Homo sapiens: one gene and its partners. The protein of the gene in region 3 purifies or fractionates together with the protein of the main gene of each other region. This does not show direct contact. Each region holds a gene or a part of one and is shown on either strand. Other genes may lie near its edges.

Region 1 (3,500 bases), on a different chromosome or scaffold from region 3:
TTTCATGTATAACTTTTTGTACTGAATTGGAAACGGGTTGTGGTCTTCTTTTCTTATTTTTTGAGCTTTTAAAATTAAACTGACTATGCACATCTTTTCCTCACCCCTCTGTCTTCCACAGGATGAATTTCACCCATTCATCGAGGCACTTCTTCCACATGTCCGTGCAATTGCCTATACTTGGTTCAACCTGCAGGCTCGAAAACGCAAGTACTTTAAAAAGCATGAGAAGCGAATGTCAAAGGATGAAGAAAGAGCAGTCAAAGATGAGCTTCTCAGTGAAAAGCCTGAAATCAAACAGAAGTGGGCATCCAGGCTCCTTGCCAAACTGCGCAAAGATATTCGCCAGGAGTATCGAGAGGACTTTGTGCTCACCGTGACTGGCAAGAAGCACCCGTGCTGTGTCTTATCCAATCCCGACCAGAAGGGTAAGATTAGGAGAATCGACTGCCTGCGACAGGCAGACAAAGTCTGGCGTCTGGATCTAGTCATGGTGATCCTGTTCAAAGGCATCCCCTTGGAAAGTACCGATGGAGAGCGGCTCATGAAATCCCCACATTGCACAAACCCAGCACTTTGTGTCCAGCCACATCATATCACAGTATCAGTTAAGGAGCTTGATTTGTTTTTGGCATACTACGTGCAGGAGCAAGGTAGGAGCAGATTGTTCTTTTTTCTAGCACGGCAAACACCGCCTACAAATCTCCGTAGACAGAGTATCTGGCTTGAGTTAGATGGTCCTCAAGGCCCCTAGATATCCTCCACCCTCTCTGGGTATAGTAGGGTGTCCGCTTTCACTCACATGTCCGCTGCCATGTGCGAGCCATGTAAATAGACACAGAGCTTTCGTACCTGGATAGGCTTGGATATTTAAGAAAGACCACAAAGAGGTGCGTTTTCAAGTATCTTTAAAATAATACTGTTTTTCAAAGACATAGGGTAGTCTAACAAATATAGTTCATTACACTATACTTTCTGTCGTAGGCTACATTTTTGCATCTAATCTAGTAATCTTTTCCTGATTTGAAAATATAACTTTATTTATGAATAGCCAAACCATCCTAGATAATTTTTGTATTAACCTTATTAATTAATGAGGTAGAGGGACTTTGTTTATGAACTTAGTGGTATCGCACTGAAAATAGAACTAATGTTTACTATTACAAAATGCTTAAGATAGATAATATCAAAAGTATATCTTACGTAGACCTAGATTTACTTAATTTTAATATTTCTATCATCACTTTTGATTGTGCAATATTCACTGTCGATTAAATGGAATTGAGTTATTATTTAAATTATTTATAGTATGTTCCCAGAGTTACTTGGGAACACTTAATAATGTTAGTTTACTTGTATGTAAATTCATAAAACTTACCGAGGAGGAAAGTCGCAGCGCTGCTTACAGAACAAAAAACAGAAAGTGGACTGGTTACACTGGTTTAAGATAAATCTTAAAAAGAATACAGAAACTGCATACCATACCTATTATTTAAAATACCTGAGAAGGAGAATGGTATACATTTTACCTAAATAATTAAAAAAGATGATGTTATTACTGAATATTTGAGTTAATGAAATGTTTATTATTTTTATTTTTCTTAATATATTTTCCTTAAGTAGGTAAGAATTTCTTTTCTTCAAATAAATGCATCAAGATATAGATGTCCTTGCATTACCAACAATCCATAGTAAAACAATCATTTTACAAAGCCGCATACCAAAAGTAGACTGAAGTTTGAGCTGTCACAGATGGTAGGTCATTTCCAAACTTGGCCTGGTGGGAGGAAAAATGGCCTGCAGATAGCCAGGTGACAGACTGTTACCTGAGGTTTGTTATATAAATGTGGGACTTAATAAACTGCTATGAGCTTTATTATTCAAAAAAATCAAAATTACTTTTTTGACTCTGAATTCTAGGCCCTCACTATGTGCTTTTTGTCTTGATTTTCTTGTAGCTTTGGAGATAGGCTTAAGTGTCATTTTAGAATTTTTAGTCTGATTTTAAATAATGGTGTTGGACATTGCACTTTTAGAAATATTACCTTTTCCTGAAAAAATGAAACATTGCATTTAATATTTCCATGCATTTAAGAATTACAGTCCAAATAATGATGGTTTGGGGAAAATAATATTTTTGTCCCATGTGTCCTAAAATAAAACTCAGTAACACATGACACTTATTTGATTGACAGATGTCTAGGAGGTGACACTTTAAGGTGGGCTGTATATATGTGTTGGATTGACTATAAATGTGTTGTAACTGTGTTGTGAAAGTCAAGGATGGAAGTAAAGTTTCAAAAAGTGGGTCATGTAACTTTTTAGTGCAGGGAGGGAAGATTTGCAACCACTTCACTACTGCTCACATTTTAAGTTGCTTGAAGGCTAGGTTTTGAGGTGTGCCTGCCTGCATGCACATTTACTCCTGGGGAAGGCAGCCAGCTCTCTTAGTTTTGATGAACTGACAATAAAGATTTGTAGAGATAGATTGAAAAAAGAAAAAAAACGCATAAATGCCTTCCATGTTGCACCACTGGTCATGATAACTATAAAGTTTTAAGCAACTCTTAAGAGACCATGGTTTTAGATAAAACATTGATTTTGTTGTTGGTTCAACAATCTCTATTGTAAGAACTTTTCATTATTTTATCTTGTGTATATAACTTGTATCCTCTGCTACCTGCCAGTGCATCATCTTCTCTTAACATCTGTTGGTTCTTCCTTTGAAAAACTCACGTCAGGATGCTTTTGTGTTTTCCCCTTTTCAAAATTTATATATTCTTCTTTGTCAAGTGTAGGTTAATTATGTCATTTTATAGTGCAATTGATTAAAGAAGGCAGATTTTAAAAGATAATTCTCCGGTCAGTTAGAGGGCTGCATATCGCGAGTGATGACTTTTTATTTGTCTTCTAAGTACATGATAACTCACCTAAGTCTGTTTTATAAATCAGGAAAAGAAGTATAAAGGAAAACACGAAAGAAAAATCAGAAAAGAGAAATGTAATGTTTGCAGCAGAAAGAGCAACAAAATTACGTTTCCCCCTTTTTCTCTCTCCCCACTTCTAAATGACTGGGAGAAAAACATGAGAAAGAACAGAGAGAATGCCAAAGATGGTTGCCACTGGCACCAGGATTGGCATCAGACCCTCTTTGTTTAGCTCAGGATGCCTGTGATTTGTTAGTTGGCATCCGCATTGCAGTGTGGAGTGATGTTACAATATATTGACAATTTCCAGATCTAGAAATGTCAATAGTCCTCTTGGTTATTTATACAAGATCACACACTGCATCTCTTCTGGAAGACGAAATAAAGACCAACATGTACTAAAGTTTCATTGTTGACCAACTTCCTATGCTTTTCTTTTTTCCCTCTTTCTCTTTTGGTTCAACCCACACTTTTTTTCCTTCTTCATGCCCAGCAGCCTCATCTTTCTGAAATGTGGGAAGAGTTACCAGAGCTTTGACACAAGCTATAGTGCTACATCTGCATCTGATATGG
Region 2 (3,500 bases), on a different chromosome or scaffold from region 3:
ATTAGAACAGAGGAAACGGAATGGGGGGATGAAGGGGAGCTGTGATGCAGGCAGTTTACCCATTAGAACAAAAAGAGATGGACGGAGCTGCCTCTCCCCAGCACCCCGCCTTTGGAACTCACAGCAGGATGGGCTGGTCTGAGGTGATAACATTCCCATTCATGTGAAGGTTGCACTTCATCGGCTGCCCTGAAAAACCAAAGAAAGAAAAAGGCTCTGCTATGAGACCTCGGCTCCTCACACAAGAGGACAAGGGCTGTACCTCCATTATCAATGGTCAAAGCACCCACCACTGGCAGTTCTGGCTCCACAGATGGAGATGGGGCTGCTAGGTTCCAGTCAAGCCAGACACTAAGAAAATCCCAGGGCGTGAGGAAACCTCAGCAGTGGAGCACCAAGAGGCAAAGTGGCCACAAACCTTGCTTCATACAGGAAGAGATGAGTGGGAAGTGAGGGAGAAACGAGACTCAATGTGAAGCCATCCAAGTAGTAAGGGAAAAGGTTTATGCTATCAAATTCAGTGAAAAGATGATCAAAAGCATTATGTACAGGCTTCTACTCTGTCTACAAAGGATGAAGCACTAGGAAGACCACACTCCCACTGTATACAAAGCATAACATGTGTAACGGTAATAGCACAAAAAAGAGGAAGAAGGAACAGGGCCATGTGGGAGTAACATTTCCATATCTTACTCGAGTTAAGTTAGTGAATACATCATTAAAGGAATTAAAATATTGGGGAAAAAATGTGAAAGAAAAGCCACTGAAGAGGAACAAAAAAGTAAAATGGGGCCGGGCGCGGTGGCTCACGCCTGTAATCCCAGCACTTTGAGAGGCTGAGGCGGGTGGATCACGAAGTCAGGAGATCGAGACCATCCTGGCTAACATGGTGAAACCCCGTCCCTGCTAAAAATACAAAAAATTAGCTGGGTGTGGTGGCGGGCGCCTGTAGTCCCAGCTACTCAGGAGGCTGAAGCAGGAGAATGGCGTGAACCTGGGAGGTAGAGCTTGCAGTGAGCAGAGACCACATGCCACTGCACTCCAGCCTGGGCAACAGAGCGAGACTCCACCTCAAAAAAAAAAAAAAAAAAGTAAAATGGAAGAAATAAACCTAATTATCAATATTAAATATGAATGGATTAAATAATCCAATCCAAAGACAGATTGTCAGATTGAATTCAAATAAAAAAAAAACCAGTAAGATCTAACTATACACTCTCTATAGGTGACACATTTTTCTTTCTTTCTTTTTTTTTTTTTTTGAGATGGAGTTTCGCTCTTATTGCCCAGGCTGGAGGGCAATGGTGCGATCTCGGCTCACGGCAACCTCCGCCTCCTGGGTTCAAGCGATTATCCTGCCTCAGCCTCCGGAGTAACTGGGATTACAGGCATGTACCACCACACCTGGCTAATTTTGTATTTTTAGTAGAGATGGGGTTTCCTCATATTGGTCAAGCTGGTCTCGAACTCCCAATCAGGTGATCCGCCTGGCGGATTACAGGAGTGAGCCATTGTGCCCAGCCTAGGAAACACATTTTTACAGTTGATGAGAGAAAAAGATTGAAAGTAAGAGTGGGCCAGGCTTGGTGGCTCATGCCTGTAATCCCAGCACTTTGCAAGGCTGAGATGGGCAGATCACTTGAAGCCAGGAGTTTGACAGCAGCCTGGCCAACATGGCAGAAACCCCATTTCTACTAAAAATACTAAAAATTAGCTGAGTGTGGTGGTGCACACCTGTAGTCTCAGCCACTCAGGAGGCTGAGGCACAAAAATCGCTTGAACCTGGGAGGAAGACGTTGCAGTGAGCCAAGATCATGCCACTGCATTCCAGCCTGGGCGACAGAGCGAGACTCCGTCTCAAAAAAAAAAAAAAAAAGTGAACAAAGATATATCACTCAAATAGCAACCCTAAGAAAGCTGGTCTTTTACTTATTAGCTTATTAGCTATTAGTAATATAAAATGAAATATACTTTAAAACAACAAAAAAAGTGACTAGAGGTAAAGAGAGATTTAAATTTGACTGAAGGGTCAATTCATCAGGAAGAAAACAATCAAACATATATGCAAGTAACAACAGAACCTCAAATATATAAAATAAAAATACACAGAAGTGAAAGGAACAGACCAACAGTAATAAAGATCTCGCCGGGTGCAGTGGCTCACACCTCTAATCCCAGCACTTTGGGAAGCCCAGGTGGACGGATCACTTGAGGTCAGGACTTCAAAACCAGCCTGGCCAACATGAGGTCAGGAAATCAAGACCATCCTGGCTGACACAGTGAAACCCCATCTCTACGAAAAATACAAATATTAGCTGGGCGTGACAGTGGGCACCTGTAATCCCAGCTACTTGGGAGGCTGAGGCAGGAGAATTGCTTGAACCCGGGAGGCAGAGGTTGCAGTGAGCTGAGATCATGCCACTGCACTCCAGCCTGGGTGACAGAGGGAGACTCCGTATCAAAAAAAAAAAACAGAACCTCAGTATTTCACTTTCAATACTAGATAGAACCAAGCAGATCAACAATGAAACGCACTTAAACATTACAAAGCAACAAGACATAATAGACATGTACAGAACATTCCACCTAACAACAAGAAAATACATATTTTCCTTAAACACTCATAGAAGAAAAGAAAATCTGGAAAATTCATGAATATATGGAAATTGAAACAATCCTAAATAACCAATGGGTCAAAGGAGAAATCACAAGGGAGATTAGAAAATAATTCAAGATGAATGAAAATGAAGGCATGATATACCAAAACACGGAATGCAGTTACAGCCATGCTTAGAATATATAGCTGTAAATGCACATACAGTCATGTATCATTTAACCATGGGAATACATTCCAGAGTGCAGTGGCACGATCACAGCTCACTACAGCCTCAACTTCCCAGGCTCAAGTGATCCTCCCACCTCAGCCTCCCCAGCATCTGGGACTACAGGCACACGCCACCACGCGCCCAGCTAATTTATTTTTTGAGACAGGGTCTTGCCACGTTGCACAGGTTGGTCTCAAGTTTCTAGGCTCAAGCGATCCTCCTGCCTCAGCCTCCCAAAGTGCTGGAATTACAGGCTTCAGCCACCACACCCGGCTGTACAGCATGTTACTCTACTGAGTAGAGTAGGCAACTGTATTTGTACATCTAAACGTAGAAAAAATACAGTAAAAATATGGTATTATAATGTTATGGGCCCACTGTCATATATGTGGTCTGCTGTTAACCAAAAAGTCCTTATACTGCATATGAATACATTAAAAAGCAGAAATAAACCTACAGAATGGGAGAAAATATTGGTAAATCACTTATCTGATAAGGGACTTAAGAATATGTAAAGTACTTCTACAACTCAGTATTTAAAAAGCAGACAAAGATTCTGTACAGGCATTTCTCCAAAGATAGCTGGGCACAGTGGCTCATGCCTATAATCCTAGCACTTTTGAGAGGCCGAGGTGGGCAGATCACCTGAGGTCAGGAGTTTGAGACCAGCCCGGC
Region 3 (2,598 bases):
AGGAAAGCCCATTTACCCTCAGTAGGAAGGCAGCCTGGTCACTTGAACAGCACAGCTGAGGCTGCTTCTCTCAATTTACTCATTTTGCAAAGAATTGACCTCTACCAACTCATTAGGGAGAGGAAAAAGAATCACTTAGTAATTTTAAATCATATGAGAAGTCCTGTACCAAGTGCCAACAACTGCAAAGAAATGCAGCTAGAGGAATGTATTGAAATTACTACTGGGTCTTCCTTTTTAATGAGAAAATGACAAAAATGGTTGCTGTAGCCCTGCCTGATTTTGTACACGTTTGTCTAAGAATTGAGTTGGCACTTAAGCTCACTTCTCAAAGTATAATAATATTGTATGACCTCATTTGTCCTTTCACAAAAGCACTTGCATCATTTCCTTAAGTCATCTGCTCCCTGACATGTTTTCTTCCCTAATAAACAACTTCTGTCTGTTATTCCTGCCAATGATGTTCTGTTTCTGATGCCATATCCTATTGAGCGTGCCCCTGTACTAATATCATTGAAAATATTGATATGCAAACACATTTCCTTTTCATCCCCATTCTATCTTTCCCTTTGGGGACAGATTGCTTTCCAAAAGCTCATGAACAAATATTTGGAATGCTGGTACCTTTGGGGCAGAGGTAAGGGTGGGCGGGGTGGGGGCAGAAAGGTAATGCTTAATGCAGATAACTCTTCTAATCAGTGTCCATGGCAATATGAACGCTTGAAGAAAACTCAGTGACATATCTTGCTCAGTAGTTTCTTATTCCTGAAGAACCACAAGCATAAAGTGAGGCCTCAGTGCTGGTGCTCTTGGAGTATGGGGAATGTGCAAATATTTAACTGTTTTGTATGCTGCACATTGCAGGTCTGCTCATGTGCATTCTCCCTTTGTCTTCCTTTGTCATATGTGTTTTTGCTTTTTTGAAAGTGCAGTCTTTATTGTACCCTCCTCCAGCTTGTAGCAAATTAGAATGCTTAGCATTTATGTTCATTCATTATTGTATTTGCCATGTAAAATTTTTATTACCTTAGACAAGCTTATAAGCTGTTACTACATAACTTATCTTACTGTAACTCTTTTATTTCCCCCGACGTTGTAATTTGTTTGTGATGTATATTGTGAAATTGTATTCTATGTTAATTTAATCAGCACAATTCACTGACATGCTGGACTGACATGCTGGCTGCTGTTTCAAAGTGTAAAGTTTGTGTAGGGCTGTTGGGACAACTGCAACTCTGTTGTCAAGGTACTGTGCTTTGGTTCCTATAGCAACACTGGGTGTGGCCCTTGAATTGCTAAGGGCATTTAATACATCCTGGAGCAAATTTTAACTGCAGATTTTCTTTGTAGAAATTCTATGTATAATGCAGGTACCTACTTGGCCCATGGCTGGTAACTATTTGGGCAATTAGAAAAAAAGAAAAAAACATAAAAACTAGTGTCTATTGCTGCTTTGAATATGTTTGAAAGTCTGAAAATGTAAATAGTTTATCAAAAAAAAATCTTGTACAGTCCAGTGTAAAGTTTTTAAATGACCTTAAGGGTTGCCATCACATCTTTCTCACACTCTCCTCTTGATAATAATAATAATAAAAAGTTTGCTAAGGATTAAAGAAATGGGAAAAATAAAAAAAATCTCTTCAAATTTACAGGAATGAATCATTGTTCTTAGCTTTGTTGCATACACAAACTTCTTGGATTTTGTTGTGCAGTATTGACGTGAGATAAAGCTCAACATTGAATAATCTTTCAGTGGTACTTTTCAAAGTCTTCCCCTCCTCTGCCTCATAATTAAGGGAAAAGACAAAATTGAAAGACACACTGTCTTTATCTATCCTGGTGTATGTTGGCACCTTAGCTACTTTTTTTTTTTCCTTTTTGCACAAGGTGCTTTCCTGATATGTTCAACATGCCATCTTTGGGTGATAATGTATATGCCGTGATGGGGCTCAGGCCCCTTAGGGGAGTGTCTATAAGAACTGCCTATTTATGCTCATTTACCTCAAGACTGTCCTCTCTACCCTAATCTAGTTGTCATCACTCCATCTTTTGTACTGCTGTTGACACTTACAAATTAAAGATAAATTTTGTTTTATGACCTCTGTGTATGGCCTTGTCTGTGCCCTGCAAACTGTCCCCACCATGGGGCCCCAGCCAGCCCTGAATGTGCCACCCTCTTGCTGCTGGAGCCTGCAGAGCTCTCCTGCCCTCTGCCATTGCTTCTGCCTGGCCCAAGGGTAGGTCTCTGAAAGACATGGAACCCCTTAGCCTGGAAAGACTTGCCTGCTCTTTTCGTTGTGGAGCACACCTGGCTGCAGCAGGAAATACTTGTGGATTTAGAAGGGAGGAACGGGATACAAGGTGGATTTTTGTCAAGAGAAGATAAGAGAGCATGGCATTGCCTCTTTACCTGACTTCTTCGTGTCAGTGAAACAGCTTAGAGCCTTTTGGAGTATGAACAACTCTCAAGGGCCAGCCTCTCATCTGACGCCACCTTCTACGAGCCTAGCAGCCAAGAGTGGAAAATGCTGCACTTATGGAACCTTTCCCTCCACTGTGGTTGGCAGTAGTTGGCTGATTACTCAGTACCTTCTGCCT
Region 4 (3,500 bases), on a different chromosome or scaffold from region 3:
AATAACTGAGATGAAGGCTGAGAATAACTACATTTTTGTCAAGTAGATGGGCATTCCAGGGAAATAACAGCACAGAGGCTGAGTTCCACAAGCCTAGAGCACAGCAAGGAGTTCAGGTGAGTTGAAAGCACACTCATAGAGAGAAGTAGTCAGAAAGAAAAGGTGGTAAAGATTTGGGGCATTACTAGAAAAGCAACGTAAGAAATCTATACTTCATATGCAACACAGCCTCAGTTTAGGAAAGGTAATCTAGTAGCAAGAAGCAAGAACTAATTAATCGATAAAACATAAACAATGGTAAAACAAAGTAACTACAAACCAACCATTAAGAAAAAAAAATGTGGTTAGCATCACGGTGAAGAAACAGAAGGGAGAATAAGACAAATGCATGAACCAGAAACTGTCAATTTAGAAATTCCAAGGCATGTTGACTAACTGAATAGAACAAGGAAGGAGAAGTCAATGAAAACATCAGTATTTTGAATCTGGATTAGTTGTGGATTGATGGATATACGTGCTGGTTTATTTGAGGGTGGGGTAGAAGTTAATAAGTTTGGTTTTTAAAATGCTGCATGTGTATTATTACACTTCACTCAGCCATCTTTTGCAATATTTTTTAAAAGTTTGACTTGCTGACTGTACCAAATTGCACAATCATACTGCAATACCAACAACTCCATTCAATCCTAATACTAATCATCTGGAGTTCGGGCAGGCCCCACAGGTTAAGGGCTCAGTTTCACAAGGCTGCCCCACTTCAGATGCCAACTGCAATGAGGTGCCCAGGCTACTCACACTTCTCCCTGGCTGAAGTCTACAAATTCTGGGGTTATCACACCTCCCCCCATTGCTATTACTATAACAATTCACAGGACTCAGGAAAACACCGTACTTACTGTTACAGTTTATTATAAAGGATACAAATGAAGAGCCAGATGAAGAGGTACACAGGGCCAGTCTGAAGGGTCAGGGTGCACCACCCTCCCAGCACGAGGAGGTGCTCACCAACTCAGAAGCTCCCTAAACCTGATGATTAAATCACTGACTAATGGTGATTACCACCAATCTCCAGCCCCTCCCCTCGAGGGAGGCTGGGGGTTGAGCCTGAACGTTCTAACCCTCTTAACATGGGGTTAGTTTTTCTGACAAGCCCCCACCCCAAAGCTATCTAGGGCCCCCACCCCCGCTATAAGCCATCTCATTAGTGTAGAAAAGATAGTAAATTCAAAGGGTTTCCAAAGTTCTGCCGAGGGAACCTGGGCAGAAAAAAATATTCATTTTTTATCATACCACAGCATCCCCCAAAAGGGCATGTCCACCAGAACCTCAGAATGTGGCCTTATTTAGAAATAGAATCTATGCAGATGTAATTAGTTAAAATGAAGTCATTCTGGATTAAGACTGGCCCCTAAATCCAAGGACTGGCGTGGCAATTCCATTTCTGGGTATACACTCAAAAGAACTGAAAGCAGGCACTTGAAGACACATTAATATACTCAAGCTCCTATTAGTATTATTTACAATAACCAAAAGGTGGAAGCAACTCAAGTGTCTATTGAAGGATATATGGTTTAAAAAAAAATAGTATAGATATATAATGGAATATTATTTAGCCTTAAAAAGGAAGTTCTGACACATGCTACGACACTGATGAATCTTGAAGACATCATGCTAAGTGAAATAATGACTCAAAATCTTACAGGGCAAGCTAACACAAGAACCCTGTACAGCCTGTTTATATTCTTAATATATTCTGAGTCATTTCCCTCTGTTTTCCTTTAGAATACAAATACTTTTTAAAGTTCCAGTTCATAGCAGTCATATTAAACAGAACCAAGAAGAAAAAATGTGTCCCCATTAGTCCAGAACTTTAAAGGAAGAACAGCACATCCATGAAAGCCAAGGGGTAAAATATTAACTGAGCAAAACGAAAGAGGTCAATGACCTCCTTACCTGGAAAATCTCCTTCTAAGGCCTAAACATTGTACAAGACATTCTATTTTAATAGGGGGATCAATTTTCCTTCAAGACTGAAGATATCTACTAGATTTCTACAATTCTCTATCATGCAGCAATCAGACATCTACAGTTAACACAAACTTTTACTTACCATTCTATTTCTTCTTCTTTTCCAGAATCCTCGACTTGGATAAGATACCACATAGACTATTAGCTTGTGATAGGGTTCTAGCAATTATCTAATCTAAGGGTCAGCAAACCAAAGCCCATGGGCCAAGTAGGGCCTGCCACCTGTTTCTGCCCAAATTTAGCTACCACCCGTGTATGTAAATAAGCTTTTAATGGAACACAGCTATTCCAATTCAGGCATATATTGTCTATGGCTGCTTTCAAGGTAAACGGCGGAGTTCAGCACTTCCAACAAAACTCATCTGCCCTGCAAAGCCTAAAATATTTACTATCTGACCCTTTACAGAAAAAGTTTGCTGACCTTTGTATTCCAAAGGTTCTCAACCTTCTTTTTCCTCAATATCACACTCATGTATAATATGTTCCTAGTCCAAATCACTAATAGTCAAAATTCCTTATTTTATAGATGAGGAAATCCAGATCCTTTATTTAAATATTAACTACAAATCAGGTAATGTCCAATAACTTTCGAAGTGAACATATGAGCCTTACAGCATAACTAGTAAGTTCTGAATAGCCAAGCCAAATTTTCAGAAAGAGTTCCTACACCATGTTGCTTTAGAAATAATTTGTAGTCACTGTTTTAAAAATCTCCTATGTTACACGGGCCCCAGGAGAGGTTCTCCCTAAAATGAAGTTTTTATTTTGTTTATGAAGTGTAGTCCTCATTGGTCATTTGTTTGTCTTTCAACAAACTTTCATCATTCAGGGTTTAAAAATCAATCATAATAGAATTCCTGCTTGATATGAGATAGGACCCCTCCTATTATGGAAGTTATAAAGGCTTGCTCTATAAACTTGGGTAGCCGAGAAGAGGCAAGTGAGCTGAGCTCAGCCTACTGGATGTTCCCATCATGACTTAAAATCTATAGGAACTGACACTCATTTCTTTTCCCAGGAACCTAGACCCTTTTTTTTTTTTTTTTTTTTGGTGAGACAAAGAGTTTCCCTGTTGCCCAGGCTGGAGTGCAGTGGTGCGATCTCGGCTCACTACAACCTCCACCTCCTGGCCTAGCCATGAAGCCTTCTAAATGGCTGAGTTTAAGGGATGAAATGTCAAACAAAGAGGAGAAAATGTTGTTAAAAACTTCTAGAATGAAAAAAGGTCACATAAAAAATGATTAGGAATCAGAATGTCCTCAAACTTCTCAAGAGCAGATCTGGATGCCAGAAAACACAACAATACCGCCAAAAATCTTACAAAAATAAACTCAAATCTAAAATTCTGGACCCAACAAAACCACCAATCAAGTTGTGAAAATTAAAATTTCCTTCAGACTCAGGAGTCTCAATCTCAAAAAATTTACCTTCAACACACACACTCAAGAAGCTGTCGGCCAGGTGCAGTGGCT
Region 5 (3,500 bases), on a different chromosome or scaffold from region 3:
AGGGGAAAGGGGGGAAGAAAATATATATTAAAAAAAAAAAAAAAAAGAAAGAAAATGGGGAAGTCTATAATAATTGATATTACTTCTTTGCTATTCCAAAAAAAAGTGTGCATCTAAACTCAGATCTCCCTCAAATATTTATTTGATAACAATTCATTTGGCCACAGTTTAAGACATTAATTCATTTCCTGACTACAGTTGCAAAAAAAAAGAAAAAGAAAAAGAAACAAAAAGAAAAAAAAGATGAAAGGAATGGGAATGGGGGAAAAAAAAGAAAAAAAAGGGGGAATGAATAAAAGTAGTTAGCTTGGTTAAGTCTGCTAAGACAATGAATGCCTGGATATACAGTTATGGGTCCAGAGGCATTTTAAGACATGGTTCAGAGACAGATTCTTGATCTGTTGGCTGTTAACACTGTACTAACCTTCATGTCTTGTTCAGCCTTCAACGCAGCCTGGGCCTGATTACCTCTGACTCCAGATAGTGATCCACAAGGACCCCTGGCTACATGTGGCAAACGAGCATGGCTCATGAGGCCTGTGGTCAGCGGAGGAGGCATCTGACTGGCCAGTGCCATTGGTGGCCTCTGAACAGGCGCTGGGAAGGTGTTAGTATGTGGGGCTCTTACCAATGGAGGGACCAGGTTAGGCTGGGAGAGAATCTGAGTGAAAAAAACAAAACATACAACATTGAACTGTTAAAAAAAAAAAAAAAAAAAAAACTGCCAACTAGACCAGGTTGGCTCATCCCAGAGTAAATCTGTGCCCATCCTACCAGTGAAAGGAAGTGTACAGATTGTGCCATTCCATTAACAAGGACAAGGAATAAACAGGCCATGCTTGGAGAGTTTAACAGAAAAACTAGGCAAAGCATGCTATGGCACTTCAGTTGGTCCTAGCATCTCAGTTGTAAATTCTGAAGGGGGGATAGAAAGACTTTTAATTAGGCTATCTTTTCAAAAGGTAGTTGCAGAAAAGGCACACACCTGTAACAAATGTAATCTGAAGATAAATAAAATCAATACTAATTCAACAAATGTGAATTTCTCAGGAACCAGTTCTAGTTTGTGAGAGTTCTTAGTCCTTTTATACGATCAGCAAGGGGAAGAGAAGCCAACATTTTTTACATATATTAAAACATCTTTTTGGAAATTTTATCTCAATTGCACATAAATATCTTAACAACAACAAAAAACAACTTTAAACCTAGAAAACTTCAAGCACTGGGACCCTTCGCTGAAAAGTCAACTCCTTAAAAAAAGTTAAAAGGAAAAGGACTCATTATCAGAGCTGTGTGGGGAATCTTTTAACTATTTCTCTTGTCTGCTTTAGAACTAAACAATTACCATGTCTGGCTATAAATCGCAGACTATCTTTATAAAATAAATTTATTGTTAAATTCAGAAACAATTTTTTATTAAAAACTGTACTTCTTAACTGGTTAACATAAGGCAAGATAATAATTTATCAGATTAGCAACTATTTTTAAGTAAATAATACTCATTTCTTAATTATGTCTGCCCACCTGGGGTGCAAACTGTGTAGGAAATGGTTGTGTCATTCTCACAGTGGCAGGGGCTGACTGGAACTGCTTCTGGTAGACAATGCTGTTCATTTTGCTGGACTGGCTGTTCGGACTTGTAGAAGTAGCCCTTGGAAAGAAGCCATTACTAGTCAGTATAGTAATACCAAGTAAATAATGCTGTTAGATTTTTGCAAACACCGTTCTTGGTATTTTCATCATACTTGGTAGTTGGTAAAAATTTACTATGATGATTACCAAAACATTCTGGTAGAAGAGAGACATTGGAGGAGCAGAGGTAAGAAAGGATACCAGTTACCAGTTAGATTGGCTGGTTCGAGACCAGCTTGGACAATATTTTTTTAAAAATTAGCCAGGTGTGGTGGCACGTGTATGTAGTCCCAGCTACTCAGGAGGCTGAGGCAGGAGGCTTGCTTGAGCCCAGGTGTTTGAGGTTGCAGTGAGCTATAATCATGGCACTGCACTCTAGTCTGGGTAACAGTGTGAGACTCTGTCTCAAAAAAAATAAAAGAAAAAAAGGTTTGCTCTGTAACAAAAGAATTTACTTAAAATATAGTACAATAAACACATTTTAAATAATTTAAAAGCTTAACATTTTAGACAAAACTATCAAAAAGAATGTCTTAATAATTCCTTTTCTGCTTGGAAAAGGGATTATGTCACACAGGACTGATAAGTATTTAACAAATAGTGACCAAATTGGAATTTCATAAGCAAATTTAAATGCCCATTTTACCGGAAGGGACTAGATGTTGGTGTGGTGCTTCTACCAGCGATTGGAGGTGTGCCTGGTTTTATATCAATGCCACTTCCAAAGGCTTTTAGTTCCATTTCAGACATCTGAGGAGAAGCATAAAATAAACTTAACATTTCTTTAATTCCACAAGCTAAGTGCTGTGTTTACATGTCCTATACGTGAAGACGTAATCTAGGAAAGGGCAAAGAACCTTAGTACAAAACTCCTATAGTTAGGCTTCAAGTATTATGGAATTACCTGACCAAACAGACTTATAATTAAATAAGCCCAAGAGACACTATAAATCCAATTCTTCCAATAAATTTGTGAATTCTTTGTTATTAGGTAAAAACTAGATGGGGCCAAACACATTAAAAGTAAATAGATAAAATGTAAATATACTGGGGTTTGAGATTTTTGCAGGGTGGTAAAAACTGACGCATTTTAGTTTTTTAGATAACACAGATGCATATATCTGAACACACTACCTTAAATTCTCAAATAACCTGTGCAAATGTCTCTTTACTTACTTTTCCTGTGGTTGCAATCATGCTATGCTGTGTTCCAGCAGGAATTAATCCTCTGAAAGGCTGGCTTACTTGTGCAGGACGACTCAGACTCTGAGCCTGTGCTTGGGGAGTGGTATGCTGTAATGGGGGCTGAAGAGTCTGAGGCAAAGCAATTAGAGGTTGCCCTGTAGATCCAAAATTAGGCAAGGAAAGCTGCGATGCTGGTAAAGGTACTGTAACCTAGAAAATAAGTAAAGAGAAACTGAAGCAATTTGTTTCTGTTTACTACAGACATATCCATACAACTATACACAACTCTTCAAATACTTTTGAGTAAGATTTCAAACAGAACACATCGGCCAGGTGCAGTGGCTCATGCCTGTAATCCCAGCACTTTGGAAGGCCAAGGCGGGCAGATCACGAGGTCAAGAGATCGAGACCATCCTGGCCAACATGGTGAAACCCTGTCTCTACTAAAAAAAAAAAATACGAAAATTAGCTGCATGTGGTGGCATGTGCCTGTAGTCTCAGCTACTTGGGAGGCTGAGGCATGAGAATCACTTGGACCCAGGAGGGGGAGGTTGCAGTGAGCCGAGATCCTGCCACTGCACTCCAGCCTGGCGACAGAGCGAGACTCTGTCTCAAAATAAAATAAAATAAAATAAAATAAAATAAAATAAAATAAAATAAAATAAAATACATAGAACACATCC
Region 6 (3,500 bases), on a different chromosome or scaffold from region 3:
TTACAGGCATGAGCCACCGCACCCGGCTGCTTTTTCTTAAGCAACATGAGTTAAATGTGTAACCAGTTTGGGGAATTTGATTATGTTCGCAAAAACTGACATTATCAAACCTTTATATATTAGTCTACATGATATTATCTAATCGAAAACTACATTATAACTGTCTAGTCAATACTGGACACATTTCAGATTTCAAGATTAGAAGCAAGGAGTTCAATCTTAAAATTTTAAAATTTACATGACTTGTTGAGTAATTCGATATCAGAAAATTTCACCTTCCATTTCAAAATTTGAACGAAGAATGGTAGTCTAAAAGATTAAAGCCAAAAGTGTTTGTTTTGTTTTGTTTTCGTTTTTTTTTGTTGTTGTTTTGAGACAGAGTCTTGCTCTTGCCCAGGCTGGAGTGCAGTGGTGCGATCTTGGCTCGCTGCAGCCTCCACCTCCCGGGTTCAAGCAGTTCTGCCACAGCCTTCCGAGTAGCTGGGACTACAGGCGCCCAACACAGCTGGCTAATTTTTGTATTTTGAGTAGAGACGGGGTTTCACCATGTTGGCCAGGCTGGTCTCAAACTCCTGACCTCAGATGATCCACCCACCTTGGCCTCCCAAAGTGCTGGGATTACAGGTGTGAGGCACTGCACCCGGCCTGAAGCCAAAAGTTTATTCATGGAATTTATAATACAGTGTGTATTTGGATGTAGAGATCCCTGTTACTGTTTTTAAACTATGGATTAAGAGTTAATCTCTTTGAGTAACAGTCTTAGCATTCTCTTTTGAACTTTTTTTTTTTTAATTTCTCAGGGAGAGTGTTATTGGGAAACCTAACTACACAGGCTGAAAAGATACATAAGATAAAAATGAAATATTTTTAAACAAACATCTTTGTAACCACCACCCAGGGCAAGACAGACATTGCCAGCATCCCAGAAGCCTCCCACCACCTATATTTTCCCATCACAACTATCACCATCTTAATTTAAGCTAGATATAAATGTTCTTCTGACATTTATAGTTTTACCATATAAGTTTACATCTCTAAATAATAGAGTTTAATTTTGCCCATTTTTAACTTTATGTAAATAGGATTGTGTTGTATATATTTTATTTTTAGCTTTTATTGTTTCATAATATTCCATCATGAATATAACACAAGTTTATTCCTTCTGCCATTGTTTTGGATATTGCATTTAGATTGTTTGCAGTTTGGGGCTATTATAAACAATGCTTTTATGAACATTTCTGTTTAAGTGCACTGGTGCATGTTTATTTCGTTTTCTTGAGATTATATACTTAGAATTTGAATTGCAAGAACATGGGGAATGTTGGTCTTTATCAGGTAATGCCAGGTAGTTTTTCAAAGTAGTTGTTTAGTGGTTTTTACTTCATTTATTAGTATGTAAGAGTTCTTGTTTCATATCCCTTACCAACAACCGTACGTGGTATCATATATTTCAATTCTAGCCAATCCTGGTGGGTATGTAGTTGTATTTAGTTTTAATCATTTCCCTCATTACTAAATGGGGCTGACCAGCTTTTCATATCTGGGTGTTTGGATTTCATTTTTCATAAAATGCCTTTGAAATCTTTTCCTTTTTTAAATCGAAACACGTCTTTTTCTAGAGTTCTGTATTCTGAATATATCTCCATTGTTGGATGTATATATTGCAAACATTTTTTCCATTTAGTAGTTTCTTTAAATTAACAGAAGTTCTTCATTTTAATGTAAACATGTTCATCAGTTTTTTATGGCTAGTGTTTCTTTTTTTAAAACATCATAGAGATACTTTGATTATCTTTAAACCTTTTTGTGCTTTGCTTTTTCACATTGACGTTTATAATGCATCTGAAATTGATTTTGTGTACAATGTGAGATATTCAGAGCTTTATATTTAGTAAGGGATTCACTTGGTTTATATTGTCCATATTATAATTTAGGGCTTGGATATTATAATTTAAATATATCTGGAACTATAAACTACTCTTGAAATTTTTGGCTATTTACATTTGATGTGGTATATAATTAGGGTAACCATATGGCCTAGTTTGCCCTGGTGGAAAGTCCTTGTTTGTGCCTGCTCTGGCATAATTATTAAAAACATCCCGGCTGGGCAGGGTGACTCAGGCCTGTAATCCCAACATTTCCAAAAGGTCAAGGCCGGGGTATTGCTTGAGCCCAGGAGTTCAAAACCAGCCTCGGCAATACAGGGAGACTCCATTTCTACAAAAAATTTTAAAAAGTGCATTAGCCAAGCATGGTGGCATGCATGTCTGTCGTCCCAGCCACTTGGGAGGCTGAGGCAGGGGGATTGCTTGAGCCCAAGAGGAGCTGTGATCATGCCACTGCACTCCAGCCTGAAACATAGAACAAGACCTTGTCTTAAAAAATAACAATGATAGCCTGTAATCCCAGCACTTCAGGAAGCTGAGGCAGGCGAATCACCTGAAGTCAGAAGCTCGAGACCAGTCTGGCCAACATGGCGAAACCCCGTCTCTACTAAAAATACAAAAATTATCTGGGCGTGCTGGTGCATGTCTGTAATCCCAGCTACTTGAGAGGCTGAGGCAGGAGAATTGCTTGAACCTGAAAGGCGGAGGTTAGAGTGAGCCAAGATCACACCACTGTACTCTAGCCTGGGCAACAGAGCGAGACTCTGTCTCAAAAAAAAAAAAAACACAAAATAATAATAATAATCTGTTTTCTCTTTTGAAAATGTTTCAGTGTGGATAAGTTATCACACCACATAATCAAAAGCCTAATTGCAGAGGTGCTGTGAAATGGTCGATGTGCCTTATTTTCTGCTAGAGATGTCACAGACTAGCTTTAGTTCTAGAAAGTGAAACAGGTAAGTTTGAGGGGCTTTGATCCTCGGAACCTAAGCATATGTCAAGAAGTCATAAAGGCAACCTAGAAAGGCTTTGATGTCAATCTGCTATGTATGTTTATAGATGATCTGTGTTGCAGTTTGTTTCTGCAGTTTGTTGCAGTTTGTAGTCTGTGTCACAGCTCTGAATTTATTTTCTTCTCAGCACTGATCATGACTTACACTTAATCTTCTTTGCTTATTTGCATATGTGTTTATTGTCTGTCTTCACCTTCCCCTTCACCTCCAGACTCTGAGCTCCTGGTATGAAAGGTTGTTTAGTTAGTGAGTAAATGGAAATGATTTAGCATTTTAGCTTATTGTTCTTGTAGAAGTATCTTGGGTATACCTCCAAATAATGCTTTTCCATGTTCACAATTGCATTTCCCTATAAAATTAAATTATCCTGCCTCACATTAAGAAATCTTGAAGAATTTCAGTGAGTAGGGATGCAAGAGGATGAAATCTAGTGACATAATTAACATTATTGGGGAGGTAAACTCTTTGTGACTCAAGCTCAATTATAATTTTCATTTAAAGTTTAAAGGAAGCCTCCATTCAGGGTGTAGGAAGAAATTACACAGTGGTGACATGTATGAATATTTTATGGAATAGTTCCAGTTGTGTTTGCACCTACGTC
Region 7 (3,500 bases), about 18 Mb from region 3:
TTAGTCAGACTCTGTAACAGAAAGTTTAAGTGTTTATATTATTTGACTTTATTCTATCCTAACTTAACCTGTAGGATTCAATGCTGGATTTTGAAAATCAGACACTTGATCCTGCCATTGTATCTGCACAGCCTATGAATCCAACACAAAACATGGACATGCCCCAGCTGGTTTGCCCTCCAGGTTAGTAGTGGTACATTTTTATGTGAGAGAGAAATATAAGGCCAGTACTTTCAGGTTTTAAAAAGATTGTGAAAATAAATTTTGTTTATTTTAATGACTGTTTAATTTTGACTCTTAGGTCTTTTAATTTGATAGAAAGAATGTTATTGTTCCTATGATTTGAATTAAAAATGTAGTTTATAACTGTTTATTTTTAAACTTTTCATTGGCATGTAGATATAGAAAAATATACGCAAGTTTAATGAGTTTTTATAAACTGAAAACACCTGCAGCTAGATTAAGAAATGAAACATTACCAGTACCCCAGAAACCTACGTTGTTTCCTTTCAATCACTAGTTACCCTCACCCCTAGCGATAGCAACCACTTCCGTACTTGTAACTGTAATAGACCAGTTTTGTCTGTTTTTGTAACTTTAACAAGTGAAATTTTGCTTGGCTTTTAAAATTTCAAAATTAATCTAGGAGTAAAAATAATAGAGGTGCCTTTTTTTGAATGCTTTTAGCTTTCTAGGAGAATTTCTGGATTTTATTACCTTAAAAAAATACACAGCAATGAAGTGGGTAAGGGAATATGTAAGAGGCAAAGGGAAGAGAGAAACCACAAGACAGTTTCAGACTCTTTCTGGACTTACACCATTATTTGAAGTAGTAGCACTAAATACAGTTGGTGCCTTCCATTGGGTTAAGTGGACCTTCTCTCCAGGACTATTAGTGATTGTGAGTCATCTTGGTTTTTCCCAGAACACATCAGTTTTAGTTGCACAAAAGTGGAACTAAATAAAATAACCTATTTAATGTTGCATGATGTTAAATATCATAAAATAAATTGCTGAGTAAAAGTATGTTTAATGACAGTTAATTTGGTGTAAGGTAGTTAGGATTTTTCTGAAGTAAAGGGAGCTCATATCTCTCACATTTTTTTTTTTTTTTTTTTTTTGAGACGGAGTCTCGCTCTGTCGCCCAGGCTGGAGTGCAGTGGCGCAATCTCGGCTCACTGCAAGCTCCGCCTCCCGGGTTCACGCCATTCTCCTGCCTCAGCCTCCCAAGTAGCTGGGACTACAGGCGCCCGCCACTACACCCGGCTAATTTTTTGTATTTTTAGTAGAGACGGGGTTTCACTGTTTTAGCCGGGATGGTCTCGATCTCCTGACCTCGTGATCCGCCCGCCTCGGCCTCCCAAAGTGCTGGGATTACAGGCGTGAGCCACCGCGCCCGGCTCTCACATTTCTATCAAGAGTTTTAGAAAACAGATCAAAGGTGACACCTACAAGAGAGCAATCATGGTTTTTAGTGTTCATTTTCTGAGCTCTACCAAAGGAAGAGAGTAAGTCGTTTTCTCAGCTGGGGAGTTGTGTGAAAGTCAGTATACATAGCACTGATAAAACCTGTAAGGCTATTTAGTTATTTACATAATGCTGAGTCCATTAGACTCTCCAGTGAAAATGGGTACTTTCTAAATGACTAACCAAAGATCGTCGTTTTGATTATCTGTTTAATCATTGTTGGGAAGGGAGGTGAGAGAGTGATGGGAATTGTTAAGAAGATGCATGCTGAGTTGAATATAGGCTGTTAAAAAGTATATATTATTTATTTGTTTATTTAGAGACGCAGTCTCGCTCTATCGCCAGGCTGGAGTGCAGTGGCGCATTCTTGGCTCGGCACGCTGCAACCCCTGCCTCCCGGGTTCAAGGGATTCTCCTGCCTCAGCCTCCCCAGTAGCTGAAAGTACAGGCACACACCACACTACACCCAGCTAATTTTTGTATTTTAAGTAGAGATGGGGTTTCACCATGTTGGCCAGGATGGTGTCAATCTCTTGACCTCGTGATCCACCCGCCTCGGCCTCCCAAAGTGCTGGGATTACAAGCATGAGCCACTGTGCCTGGCCGAAAAGTACATATTTTAAATTTTCTTTTTCTCTAGAAACACTTGAAATTGAAAGTTGGTTATGTTAACATATATTGAGCCGGGTATGGTAGCTCATGCCTGTAATCTCAGTGCTTTGGGAGGCTGAGGAGGGAGGATCACTTGAGCCCAGGAGTTTGAGACCAGCCTGAGCAACATAGACCTCGCCTCTACAAAAAAATTAAAAATTAGTCAAATAAAAAAGTTAGCTTGGCAGGGTGGCATGCATCTATAGTCCCAGCTACTCAAGAAGCCAAGGTGGGAGGATTTCTTGAGCCCAGAGTTTGAGACTACAGTTAGCTATGATGGCGCCACTGCACTCCAGCCTGGGCAACACAGTGAGACCCTGTTTCAGAAGAAACAAAAGGTCAAAATGGAATACTATCTGTCTGAGGTCTAGAGTATGAATAATGCCACTTTATTGTACAGCTTTAAAAGTCTTTTTTCATGGCACTGATTATTTGTTAGTGCATTCTATTAACATTTTACTTTACTTTTGGAAAAAACAAGATGAAACCAATTGTGAAAGTAAACTATTAAATAATAACCACTGCCGGTAAACCAAAATGCTCACTTGAAAGCTAAAATTTTATCTGCATTTCCCAATTTACTTTCATGATTGCTAAAAAGTTTATTTATGGTTTGGCTATAGAAATTTACCTTTAATTGCTGGGCATGGTGGTTCATTCCTATAATCCCAGCACTTTGGGAGGCTGAGGTGGGCAGATTGCTTGAGCCTAGGAGTTTGAGACCAGCCTGGGCAACATGGCGAAACCCTGTCTCTACTAAAAATACAAATATTATCCGAGTGTGGTGGCACACACCTGTAGTCACAGCTACTTGGGAGGCTGAGGTGGGAGGATCACTTGAGCCTGGGAGGCAGAGGTTGCAGTGAGCTAAGATCACATCACTGTACTCCAGCCTGGGTGACAGAGTGAGACACTCCCCCCCCCCCCCCCCCCGCAAAAAAAAAAAAAAAAAAAAAAAGCCTTTAATAGCGAAATAAAAGGTATTTAGACGCGTCTCTCTAAAAATTTAATTTTGTTTGACAAAAATGTTTTGGTCACCTTTGCAGTTCATTCTGAATCTAGACTTGCTCAGCCTAATCAAGTTCCTGTACAACCAGAAGCGACACAGGTAAGAGTGATAAAACTATTTTCTTCAGGGCCAGGTTAGGTGGCTCGTACCTATAATCCTAGTACTTTAGGAGGCTGAGATGGGAGGATCACTTGAGGTCAGGAGTTCAAGACCAGTCTGGGCAGTGTAGCGAGACACCATCTCTATTTTAAAAAAATAATTAAAAAATATTTTTTCACTTTTGTTTTAATTGGTTCCTTGGTTTCTTTCTTAGCTTATGAAAGAAAATAAGAATTTCATCAGTGTCCAAGTCTTCTGTTGGAATTCAGCAAAT

What was found.
Region 1: the proteins of SOX6 (region 3) and NFIB purify together in Homo sapiens (co-immunoprecipitation; one large-scale study listed by IntAct). This does not show direct contact.
Region 2: the proteins of SOX6 (region 3) and POLDIP3 purify together in Homo sapiens (affinity purification with mass spectrometry; one large-scale study listed by BioGRID and IntAct). This does not show direct contact.
Region 4: the proteins of SOX6 (region 3) and RBM33 purify together in Homo sapiens (affinity purification with mass spectrometry; one large-scale study listed by BioGRID and IntAct). This does not show direct contact.
Region 5: the proteins of SOX6 (region 3) and PRRC2C purify together in Homo sapiens (affinity purification with mass spectrometry; one large-scale study listed by BioGRID and IntAct). This does not show direct contact.
Region 6: the proteins of SOX6 (region 3) and LSM14A purify together in Homo sapiens (affinity purification with mass spectrometry; one large-scale study listed by BioGRID and IntAct). This does not show direct contact.
Region 7: the proteins of SOX6 (region 3) and CAPRIN1 purify together in Homo sapiens (affinity purification with mass spectrometry; one large-scale study listed by BioGRID and IntAct). This does not show direct contact.

What each region holds. Positions count from the first base shown.
Region 1 is NC_000009.12:14,304,142-14,307,641, reverse strand, and holds part of NFIB (nuclear factor 1 B-type), read left to right. Parts: intron 1-121; coding exon 122-653; intron 654-796; exon of another isoform or gene 797-890; intron 891-1,623; coding exon of another isoform or gene 1,624-1,664; exon of another isoform or gene 1,665-1,889; intron 1,890-3,500.
Region 2 is NC_000022.11:42,587,384-42,590,883, forward strand, and holds part of POLDIP3 (polymerase delta-interacting protein 3), read right to left. Parts: intron 190-3,500; coding exon 123-189; intron 1-122. UniProt on the Homo sapiens protein: Is involved in regulation of translation. Is preferentially associated with CBC-bound spliced mRNA-protein complexes during the pioneer round of mRNA translation. Contributes to enhanced translational efficiency of spliced over nonspliced mRNAs.
Region 3 is NC_000011.10:15,965,949-15,968,546, reverse strand, and holds the end of SOX6 (transcription factor SOX-6), read left to right. Parts: 3' UTR 1-2,098; downstream 2,099-2,598. UniProt on the Homo sapiens protein: Transcription factor that plays a key role in several developmental processes, including neurogenesis, chondrocytes differentiation and cartilage formation.
Region 4 is NC_000007.14:155,651,161-155,654,660, reverse strand, and holds part of RBM33 (RNA-binding protein 33), read right to left. Parts: intron 1-3,500. UniProt on the Homo sapiens protein: RNA reader protein, which recognizes and binds specific RNAs, thereby regulating RNA metabolic processes, such as mRNA export, mRNA stability and/or translation.
Region 5 is NC_000001.11:171,586,530-171,590,029, reverse strand, and holds part of PRRC2C (protein PRRC2C), read right to left. Parts: intron 3,028-3,500; coding exon 2,809-3,027; intron 2,383-2,808; coding exon 2,279-2,382; intron 1,652-2,278; coding exon 1,525-1,651; intron 662-1,524; coding exon 425-661; intron 1-424. UniProt on the Homo sapiens protein: Required for efficient formation of stress granules.
Region 6 is NC_000019.10:34,175,504-34,179,003, forward strand, and holds part of LSM14A (protein LSM14 homolog A), read left to right. Parts: intron 1-3,500. UniProt on the Homo sapiens protein: Essential for formation of P-bodies, cytoplasmic structures that provide storage sites for translationally inactive mRNAs and protect them from degradation. Acts as a repressor of mRNA translation. May play a role in mitotic spindle assembly.
Region 7 is NC_000011.10:34,086,231-34,089,730, forward strand, and holds part of CAPRIN1 (caprin-1), read left to right. Parts: intron 1-74; coding exon 75-183; intron 184-3,164; coding exon 3,165-3,226; intron 3,227-3,500. UniProt on the Homo sapiens protein: mRNA-binding protein that acts as a regulator of mRNAs transport, translation and/or stability, and which is involved in neurogenesis, synaptic plasticity in neurons and cell proliferation and migration in multiple cell types.